Linked DNA regions of Homo sapiens. The protein of the gene in region 1 purifies or fractionates together with the protein of each later gene. This does not show direct contact. Each region holds a gene or a part of one and is shown in the gene's direction. Other genes may lie near its edges. The genes, in order: SWAP70, RANBP3 and NAA20.

Evidence for each region.
Region 2: the proteins of SWAP70 (region 1) and RANBP3 fractionate together in Homo sapiens (co-fractionation; one large-scale study listed by BioGRID). This does not show direct contact.
Region 3: the proteins of SWAP70 (region 1) and NAA20 fractionate together in Homo sapiens (co-fractionation; one large-scale study listed by BioGRID). This does not show direct contact.

The regions. Positions count from the first base shown.
Region 1 is NC_000011.10:9,743,999-9,747,653, forward strand, and holds part of SWAP70 (switch-associated protein 70), read left to right. Parts: intron 1-3,655.
Region 2 is NC_000019.10:5,926,012-5,929,666, reverse strand, and holds part of RANBP3 (ran-binding protein 3), read left to right. Parts: intron 1-1,579; coding exon 1,580-1,699; intron 1,700-3,655. UniProt on the Homo sapiens protein: Acts as a cofactor for XPO1/CRM1-mediated nuclear export, perhaps as export complex scaffolding protein. Bound to XPO1/CRM1, stabilizes the XPO1/CRM1-cargo interaction. In the absence of Ran-bound GTP prevents binding of XPO1/CRM1 to the nuclear pore complex.
Region 3 is NC_000020.11:20,027,249-20,030,800, forward strand, and holds part of NAA20 (N-alpha-acetyltransferase 20), read left to right. Parts: intron 1-3,552. UniProt on the Homo sapiens protein: Catalytic subunit of the NatB complex which catalyzes acetylation of the N-terminal methionine residues of peptides beginning with Met-Asp, Met-Glu, Met-Asn and Met-Gln. Proteins with cell cycle functions are overrepresented in the pool of NatB substrates.

The DNA.
Region 1 (3,655 bases):
GTCACCCAGACTGGAGTGTAGTGGCGTGATCTCGGCTCACTGCAAGCTCTGCCTCCCAGGTTCAAGCCATTCTCCTGCCTCAGCCTCCTGAGCAGCTGGGACTACAGGCGCCTGCCACCACGCCCAGCTAATTTTTTGTATTTTTAGTAGAGACGGGGTTTAACCGTGTTAGCCGGGATGGTCTTGATCTCCTGACCTCGTGATCCACCCGCCTCGGCCTCCCAAAGTGCTGGGATTACAGGCTTGAGCCACTGCACCTGGCCAGATCTTGTAATTTTAAAAATTACGATTGAAGTTTTTTATTAACTTTTAATTTTTGTGGGTACACAGTAGGTGTTTATATTTGTGAGGTACATGAGATATTTTGATACAGGCATACAATGTGTAATAATCACATCAGGGTAAATGGGGTATCCATCACCTCAAGCATTTATCCTTAGTCTTACAAACAGTCCACTATACTGTTTTAGTTAGTTTTAAATGTACAATTAAATTATGATTGACTATAGTCACCCTTTCTGCTATGAAGTTTATTTTTTTATGTGTAATCCTGAAGGTGATCTAGCCACTTCTGAATGAGAACTCAGAAGAAAACTGTTCATTTAAAATGTAGAATACTCAAGTTATTGGCCGGACATGGTGGCTCACGCTCTAATCCCAGCACTTTGGGAGGCTGAGGCGGGCGGATCCCTTGAGGCTCGGAGTTTGAGACCAGCCTGGCCAGCATGGTGAAACCCTGTCTCTACTAAAAATACAAAAATTAGCTGGGCGTGGTGGTGCATGCCTATAATCCCAGCTACTCGGGAGGCTGAGACACTTGAATCCAGGAGGTAGAGGTTGCAGTGAGCTGAGATTGCACCACTGTACTCCAGCCTGTCTCAAAAAAGAAAAAAACAAAAAAGAAAAAATTAAGAAAAATCGAGTTATTGGAAAGTTCTTGAGGCTGAGCCATAATCTGTCCTGTTGTAACTCTTACCCACTTTGGATCTGTAACACCCTGGAGTACACCTTAGTCGTGTCTGTATTCCCAGCAACTCGTACCTGGCACACAGTAAGTACCCAGGGAAATTTTTTTGAATGAATGAATGGATCCAATGGGACCACATGGAACAACAGTCCCTCTTACATTTGATATAATACTTTTCATATATTTGAAGGTTAGAGACTGGGCTCTGGAATGAGGCCACGGTTTGATTCCTGGCTCTGGTACTTTTAGCTGTGTAACTTGAGAGAATGGCCAACTTTATACAGTTGTTGTGAGGATGAAATGAAATGATGCATGCAGAGTGTTTTAGAGTAATGCCTAGCATTTGGGAGTCACTCCGAGTGTGTTGCTTTCTGTTCCTTTATCTCATTTGCAGACGGGGAAGATATATAATGTGTGGAATGTAAAAATAAGCATTCAGAAAAAAGATGTTGACAGGCTAGAATGATGATTTTAGACCAAGAAGCTAATTTAACATATCAAAAGAACAAGTACAGGATCCAGGAGACTTGGCTTTATAGAAATTCATTTGAAAAGTTCTACAGTTTCATTTCCCTGAAATGTGGTTGCCAAAACCCTATACACTCTTAGGCAGCCTTAATGAATGTGAAGTGTCCAGAGCAAATGAGATAATTGTCCCTCTATAATATGAGCTGTTACCTACCAGTACTTGCTGTGTGGTAGGCATGTAAACACCTTATGTGCATTATCGCATTTAATACACTAATAAACCTTTGATGGTAGGTGTAGTTTCTATTCCTTTTTTGATAAATGAGGAAGCCGATACACAGAAAAAGAGTGAGGCACTGAAGTCTTTAGTCAGGAGTCTTACTTGCGAACCACAGAAACCACCTTGTATTAGCTAAAGCAATAAAACAATTTGTTGAAAGTTTCTTAAATAGTTTGCCAGTTCCACAGAAAGGCAGGTGACCAGGCCTTGAACACAGGCAGGAATCACAGGGGGATGAGCAGCCCCAACTACAGCCCAAGCCAGGCCATGGGAAGAGTCCAGTGAGGATGCCGCTGGCGCCCATGTTGGTACCAGGCATCAGCAGTGCCATCGCTCCTGCTGTCACTCAACACTGCATATTACTGCCACCGGCAAGATGAATTCTCTACTGGCTCTGCTTCTTTGTGCCAGGTGCTTCAGAGTCAAAGTTCCAGAAGGAGCATCTACATAGCCAAGCCCAGCTTGTGCCTCCACCATACCCTAGCTGCCAAGGGGTGGGAGGGCAGGTGTCTGGCCTGTGGATTCTATAGCGGGAAATGAGCCCTACCTTCCATCAAGTCTTCTACTATGGCAGTTCCCCTAGACACATGAAGGAGTTCAGAGGCTGGGCAGCCTAAGCACCTGGAAATGTCCATTCCCCCTCCATACTTTTACCACTAGAATGAAAAAACAGACCCATCCAGTCTTGTTCATTCTTATATCCCCAGTGCCTAGAAAAGCACGTAGAAGGCACATAAAAAATACACATCAACTGAGTGAATAAACTCTGCACTGGTCAGACCACATCTGTAGTGTCGTGTTCTGTTGTGTACATCAAACTCCAAGAGACATCTGAGGAGACCTCAGTGTCTCCAAAGAAGGATATTGAGTCTGGAAGCTGGGTCCCATTAGTTAAGGCTGGAGGTGGTCTTCTTGGAGAAGGATGTTCTCAACAGGCAACAAAGCTGCCTTCCAGTTGCGAAAGGGCTATCACAGGGAAGAGGGAGTAGATACTTCCTTTGTGGAACTAGGGTAGTGGATGGGAGAACTCATCTTAGTATAAGAAAAAACTTCGTAAGAATTGAAGCTGCCCATAAATAAACTGGCCCAATTTGTGAGGCAACGAGTGGTAGCCCATCACCTAGAGTATTGGAGCTGAGTTGAATAACAACCTTGCAGGAAGTTGTAGAGGGAATTTGGAAATTGGTGTTGGTATAGTCTGTTACTTTATTCCTTTGTTGTTAGTTTTATAAGAGCAGATGCTGGCAGGTAGTAGTAACTGACCAGTCATGTGACTTGACTTTGTTACCATAATATTGTTGCTCAAGCCACTAGATATGTATCCTGTCCTTGGCTGGCATCGAACGACACTATATACACTTTAATGCAGGTTTTGGCTGTTTGTTAGTTTATTTAAACAACTACATAGCTGGGTATTCCCAGATAGGTATTCCTGTTATTTTGGAGTCACACAGACCTGGGTTAAAATCCATTATAACCTGTGCAACATACTTTTAAACCCTTTGGTTTTTCATTGCTTCATCTGTAATGTAGGGACAATACCTTTCAGGATTGTCAGGGGATTAGCAATAATGGAGGCAAGGGCCTGGCATGTAGCAATTGTTCAATAAATAGTATCTCTATTCTGTCTGCGTTCACTCCTTTCTTCATCTTCATTATCAGCTTTTTCCATGGTAACAGGTTTTTACTAGATGAAAATGTTTTCATGTTGTAGCAACCAGGCAAACTTCAAATCTTGGCCCTGCCACCTGGCAGGTGGATGATCCTAGTACAGGCCACTGAACCTTTGTGTCTCACTTGCACCATCTCTAAAATATGAGTAGCAGCACCTAAATTTACTGTGAGGATTAATTGAGAAAATACACTTGACTCTTAGGCCAGTTCCTGGCACACATTAAACTCTGGATAAATGTTATTTTTTATTTCACAAACGGGTGAAA
Region 2 (3,655 bases), on another chromosome or scaffold:
TTAGATGTTGGGGGCGACCCATGGGGGAACTCCTGGTACCGTCTTTGGGAAAGTGGGGAAGAGGCTTCCCCTCCCGCCCCACACACACACAGAGTCTCAGACTGGTTACAGGCCTCGGGATTCGTTTATCAGTTTAAGCGAATCCTCTAAGCAGGCTCCGCCAGGTCATAGACATACCCTGTAGTCAGAAACATTTTGCTGTTTGCCTGCCCCATCTCAGGTGACTCTGTGGGCTCCACCCACCCGGGATTAGCACCAGTCGGTGTGAGCAGGGGGCACACAGCGCAGAAAGCCAAGAGCCAGGGAGTGTTTCTGCTGGACGGGATGCAGGCGGCCCCAGTGGGGCTGGGGATTAGCCCATCCTCTGAGGACTTCCAGGTCGCCAAACACGTTGTGTGTTTAATTTTAAAAAGCCACGTTCACTCTTGCACAGGCACAAGGATGCAGCGTGAAGTCAGCAGTAGCAGAATTTCTAGGGAGCACAGTAGAGAAACATTTACACTTTTCACTTCCTTCACAGTTGGACCAGAAAGTGCCCTCAGCGCTGTGATCCGCTGATTCTGGGCCTGGCATTGTAACTCCAGGCTTCCCTGCCCGCTGGACACGCTGAGCCAGTCAGAAGCTGCCTGCAGCCTTTCTCACCTCCGAGTTCACGGTTGTCAGGTCCCTTCACGACATCTCCCAGGAAAACACTCCCTGCCTCACGTTCATGTCCACTGTACACATCGCCAGAGACTCCAAAGATCTGCCAAAAGCCTTTTAAAATTTCTTTTCAAATTCTACAACACCTTTTTCATCATGTGGTATAGGAAAGACATATACAAATTACTAGCAACTCCATATTCCATTATCTCAAGATAAATGCATTTGGTCTTAGGATATTTAGTTACAAAAAAGTCATGCCTACATGTTGAAAATATTTACACAAAATGGAAATCCTAGAAAGTAACAAGCAGGAGCCACCCTCCAGCTAAGAGGTTCCCGGGTAACCTCCGTCAGTAGTTTGAATTCTCTCTCCCGACTTATTTTCCTGGGCATTCCTCAACACACATACACACCACACATACACACACACACACACCACACACACGGGACTGGATTGGCTTTAACAGAAATGGAATCGCACTTCCGTGTCCCACAAGCTGCTCTCTTCTCTGATCCATGTATTGTGGGCATGTCAGAGGCCTACCTCCCTCTCGGTGGTAATAGCTGTGCTGTACTTTTTTTCCCCCATATTTTCTATTGTAAATTATTTCATTCCTTGGCCAATGATGAGCAACCAGGTTATTTCCTGTCCTCTGCCGGCACTAAGGCTTCTGCAGGGCACAGGTGTTTCTTGTTGTTTGGAGACAGGTTTTTGCTCTGTCACCCAGGCTGGAGTGCAGTGGTGTGATCTCAGCTCACTACAACTCCCAGGCTCAAGCAGTCCTCCTGTCTCAGCCTTCTGAGTAGCTGGGAGTGCAGGCACATGCAGAGGAGACGTGTGGAGTACATGATCTGGTGTGGGATTGCTGGGCATCCGTCTGGGCCAAGTGTGGCACTGGTTTTGATTACTCTGTTTTGTTTTGGTTTTTGATAGGAGAAAGAGCCCCAGAAAAATGAGTCCAGCAATGCCTCTGAAGAGGAAGCCTGTGAGAAAAAAGACCCCGCCACACAGCAAGCCTTTGTATTTGGGCAGAACTTGAGGGACAGAGTTAAGGTATGTGAGCTGTTGAACCAGCACATTGACTTTTTATGCCTTCCCCAGGTTCAACAGCAGGCAAGTAGGTAGATTTTCCTTTTAACAGGGGAGGGGAGCGTGGGACAAAGAAGGTGTTAGCGAGGCAGCCCCATGGCTCACGGCACAGTCTGCTGCTGGTGTGCGTGTGCTGGGCCCTGGCACTTCCCCACCAGCAGCCCAGGCTTCGGAGCCCTCACCTGCAGTGACTTCTCAAGTCAGGGTCCCTGGTTCTCATGGTAGCGGGGACAGGGAAGGTGACTGAACCTGAGGCCTCAGGCTTTCATAGCAGAGAAGAAAGACAGCACGGTCCAGTGTTCTCAGCTCTGCCCAGAGGTTTCTGTTCCCGTATTTCAGGGTTTCTCTGTTTCAGCACTAGCAGCATTACGGCTGGACCATTCTTAGTTTCTGAGGAGTCGCCCTGGGCACTGCAGGGTGCTGAGCAGCATCACTGGCCTCCACCCACCCAATGCTCCTGACATCTGACAACCACAAATGTCCCCAGACGTGGCCAGTATTCCCTGTGGAGTAGAATCGCCCCCATTAAGAACTGTCACCTTATTTTTTTTTAAGTGGGGCAGGGTGGGGTGACAACACTGTCTTCTCTCCTGAAAGGGAGCAAAGCGTCTGCCACCTCTTGGCTGCCCTCCAGACATGTGGTCCTAGTTTGGAGATTGTGTGGTGGGGAAGGGATGGCAGTGGTTGGAAACAGTGGCCCTGGACCATGCACTGGGACTCTAGGAAGACCAGGGTCAGCCAGCACCACCTTTCCCAGCCACAGACATGGAATGTGCTACGGCATCTCTAGCAGCTCCACTGGCAAGAAGCTTCTTTCAAAGCTCGAGAGGCGGTATCGGTGGCTGTGTCTAGAGACTTTTGTGGTTGTCACAACTGGGAGGTACTTCTGGAGGTCAGGGATGCCACTCCGCCCCTTGCAGTGCCCAGGATAGCCACACCACAGGGAATGTTCTGGGCCCAGTGTCAACATGTCAGTAGTGTCGACGGGGAGGGCCCTGAAATAAACAAAAACCTCTCTAGCATGCAGAAAGCACCGGCTTGTGTTTTCTGCTTTCCTTTCTGTTACTCACCGTCCAACAGAAGCCCAAGTCGAGAAACGTGGAAAGTTGATGTTGCTGTTGCCATGGCTTTAGGCAAAATAATGAGTCCCTCAGGGGCTGTTCCCTCCAAGGAGGGAGGGCAAGAGGCGGGGAAGGGCTTGGCCTGTGGAGTTCAGGCCCTGTGGAATCTCTGCCTTGAGTCTGGGGAGACAGCTGCTTTGAATTTGGTGGGGTTGGCTTCTTGCAGAAGTCAGAGGCTTACGTGCACTTCGCAGTCTCAGTCAAATCCCAGCCTCTCCTTCCAGGGCAAACTTGAGCCATGGATTCTTTTTTTTTCTTTGGACACGAAGTCTTGCTGTGTCGCCCAGGCTGGAGTGCAGTGGCATGATCTCTGCTCACTGCAACCTCCACCTCCTGGGTTCAAGCGATTCTCCTGCCTCAGCCTCCCAAATATCTGGGATTACAGGCGCCCACTGCCACATCCAGCTAATTTTTTGTATTTTTAGTAGAGGTGGGGATTTCTCCATGTTGGCCAGGCTGGTCTCGAATTCCTGACCTCAAGTGATTCCCCGCCGCCTCAGCCTCCCAAAGTGCTGGTATTACAGGCACGAGCCACCGCGCCCAGCCAGAGCCATGGTTTCTTAACCCTCTGAGCCTCTGCTTCCTTGTTGGTCAAACAGGGTCCCTAACATCCCCCTCCCAGGCCTCGTGAGGATTAAAGCAGATCGTGCATTTGACAGACTCAGCATAGCAGCTGGTAGGAAAGAGGCCCTCAAGAAATTCTGCTTCTATCATGTTCATAGTAAACCCCCCAAAACGTCAGCTTTGTAACGTTGTGTTATTGGTATGAAGCATTGACCGAGAGGCCAGCTTAGGCGTG
Region 3 (3,552 bases), on another chromosome or scaffold:
GGCATCTGAATAAATTTTTAGCAGTGCTCCTCGGCCAAAAGAAAATAGTTCAGTCTTAAGCAGTTATATTCTAACTGTTTAATAAGTATTTATAGCCTAACAGCTAATAGCCATTTAGAAAAAAAATAAATTGAAAGAAGAAATATTTTCATTTCATTCTTAAATAACTGTGGCTAGCTACCAATGAGAGGTGTGCACCTGTTGGACATTAAATGACTTGGCAGAACCACTTGCATTCCTGTTTCATATTGATTTTCATCTAGTATTTTTTTTTAATCACAGCAACTGCCAGAAACTCAGCTTCATAGAAATATTATGTCATTAAGAGGAATGTAGCATGATCTTACGTTGAATTTGTGAACTACTTCAAACTAGTTTGCCAATATCTGACATGTAAGGTTTTGCTGTTTTCCCTGAACATTCGAAATATCCTTTGGTGGCTGTATGAGTTTGGGACACCTTAGGGCACCTGAGTGCACAGTTTGCGAACTGCCAGCATGGCATTTTTTTTTTTTTTTTTAAGGGACGTGTTGTATATATCAAACCTCTTCATTACTGGAGATAAAAGAAATACAATAAATAGAAGAGAAGGCCCCTCCTCGTATCTTCATTCTAGAAGAGAGATGTTTGTAGTAGCTTCACCTGTTGTCAAGCTGCCATTTCTTTCTCCACTGTAATTTCCTAAAAGTGTGGTAGGAAAGAGAATAGTTGCTGAGAAGGGTTCTTGAGCTTAATTTCTACTTAATTATTAGATTTAATAAAGGCAAGTTTTAAAGAAGTATCTGTGGCCTGACAAAGACTTCAAGCCAAATTAGAGGCAAAGGAGCTCAAACTCATTCAGAGAAGAAATTGTGTTAGCTGAAAAAGAAGTCGGTGCTAATCTTTAAGATTTTTTAAAGTTCTCTCTAGACCAAACAAAGAAGGGAAGAAAATTTTAGCATGATTATAGTTTACACACATTTATTAATGGCATTATGTTGAAAAAAAGTATTTGGCATTATTGTATAGTGAACAGGGAGTTAGAAAGTGGGTTGTTCAATGAGAACACATGGACACAGGGAGGGGAACATCACACACCAGGGCCTGTCGGGGGTGGGGGTCTAAGGGAGGGATAGAATTAGGATAAATACCTAATGTAGATGACGAGTTGATGGGTGCAGCAAACCACCATGGCACGCGTATACCTATGTAACAAACCTGCACGTTCTGCACATGTATCCCAGAACTTAAAGTATAATAATAATAAAAAAAAGCAGGTCGTAACTAGCTATGACCTTGCACATATAATTTAGGGTATTTGTATGATAGATTCTCCCTCTGAGTAGAAGACCACTAAGCTCTCTTCCCTTCCAGTTTCTAAGCCTTCATTATTTTAGACTAGTTGCTAAGATTTAAGTAATCTTCATTTGTAGGCATATATATACATATACACATACATGATACATATACATATGCTTATATACACTATATACATGTATACATAGTGCATACAATGTATACATTAAAAATAGAAACCAAACAAGTAGAGGAGAAGAAAAATTGAATGATAGAAGTCAACTCCAAAGAAGAGAAAAAGGAAATTAAACCAGCAAAACAAAATGCATGAAATAAAATGGTAGCCCAGAATCCAAATATTGTCAGTAATTACAACAGTAAACGTTAATGGACTTAGGACTTTATTTATTTATTATTAGTTTTGGAGATGGGGTCTTGCTCTGTTGCTCAGGCTGGAGTGCAGTGGCGTGATCTCAGCTCACTGCAACGTCTGCCTCCCAGGCTCAAATGATTTTCCTCTCTCACCCTCTGAGTAGCTGGGATTACAGGCGCCCACCACCATGCACGGCCAGCTATGATGACTCTATTTAAAAGACAAAGGCTGTCTGTATTGTTTACAGGAAATATGTGTAAAATATATTAAAATATTTTTAATACAGAAAGATTGAAAGTAAATTTTTAAATTACCTTGCAAATTCTAACCAAAAGAAAGTTAGAATACTTATTAATAATAGTTATAGTTGAATAATTATTACCAGCATAAAAAAGGGTCACTGCATATTGATAAAATATTTAATCAAGGAAGTAACAAGTCTGGGAGTGGTGGCTCATGACTGTAATCCCAGCACCTTGGGAGGCCGAGACAGGTGGATCACTTGAGGTCAGGAGTTCCAGACCAGTCTGGCCAACATGGTGAAATCCCGTCTCGACTAAAAATACAAAAATTAGCCGGGTGTGGTAGCACGTGACTGTAATCCCAGCTACTCGGGAGGCTGAGGCAGGAGAATTGCTTGAACCTGGGAGGCGAAGATTACAGTGAGCCAAGATCACGCCATTGCACTCCAGCCTGTGCAACAGAGCGAGACTCCATCTCAAAAAAAAAAAAAAAAATAGCGATTTAAAATGGTATATACCAAGTGACATCATTTCAAAGTAAAAATGCACAAATTGACAAAACTACAAGGAGAAATAGACAAATTATTATTATAATGGGAGATTTAGACATGCTTTTTTCTAATTGATAGAACAATGAGATAGAAATTTGTCAAGCCTATAGAACAAGAATCAGCAATTTTCTTCTGGGTCAGATAGTAAATATTCAGGCATTACAGGCCACCTAAAGTCTTGGTTACATAGTTTTTTGTTTTGTTTTGTTTTGTTTTGTTTTTAACAACCATTGCAAAAACCATTCTTAGCTTGAAGGCAGTAGCAAAATAGGTTATAAGCCAACCCCTGCCCTAAAGAATTTCAATCAGTAGCCCAAAATCTTTTCACGAAGAAAGCTGTGGCTTCTCTGGCCAATTTTACTAAACATTTAAGAAATAATGACTGAAAGGTCACTTTTACACAAACTATTTTGCACAAGCCAAAAAAGGGAACATTCCTCAACTTATTTTTTAAGGCCAGGATAACCTTGATAACAATACTTGGCAAAATATGGGAAAGGAAAATTCGAGGAACATCTCACTCAGATGCAAAATCTCGGAAAAATAATTAGCAAAGTGGATTTGGCACTACATAAATAGGATGACACATCAGGAACAAGGTGGTTTCAACTTTACACTAAAGGAGAACACTGGTTATTTTAGAAAGTGCAGCAAACTTGATAAAATCCAATATTCCTTCCTGATAAAAACTGTTAGCAAACTGGGAAATAGAAAGGGGGAACTTCCTTAACCTGAAAAATATCTACAAGAAATTTGTAGTAAATATATTTAGTAGTGATACACTGAATGCTTTCCTTTTGAAATTAGGGACAAGTTAGTCCCGCTTCAGTAATTTACTAGAAATTATAGCACAGGAAAGCAGGAAAAAATAAACGATAGGAGGATTGAGAGGAAACAAAACTTATTTTGCACAGATATGATTATATAAATATAAAATCCATAAGAATATAAATATTTAGAATTAATAAAAGGCAAAGTTGTTGGATATAAAGTCAGTATAAAAATCAATTGTATTTACATATGAGAGGAAACAAAACTTACTTATTTTGCACAGATATGATTATACAAATATAAAATCCACAAGAATCTAGAAATAAATGTTTAGAATTAA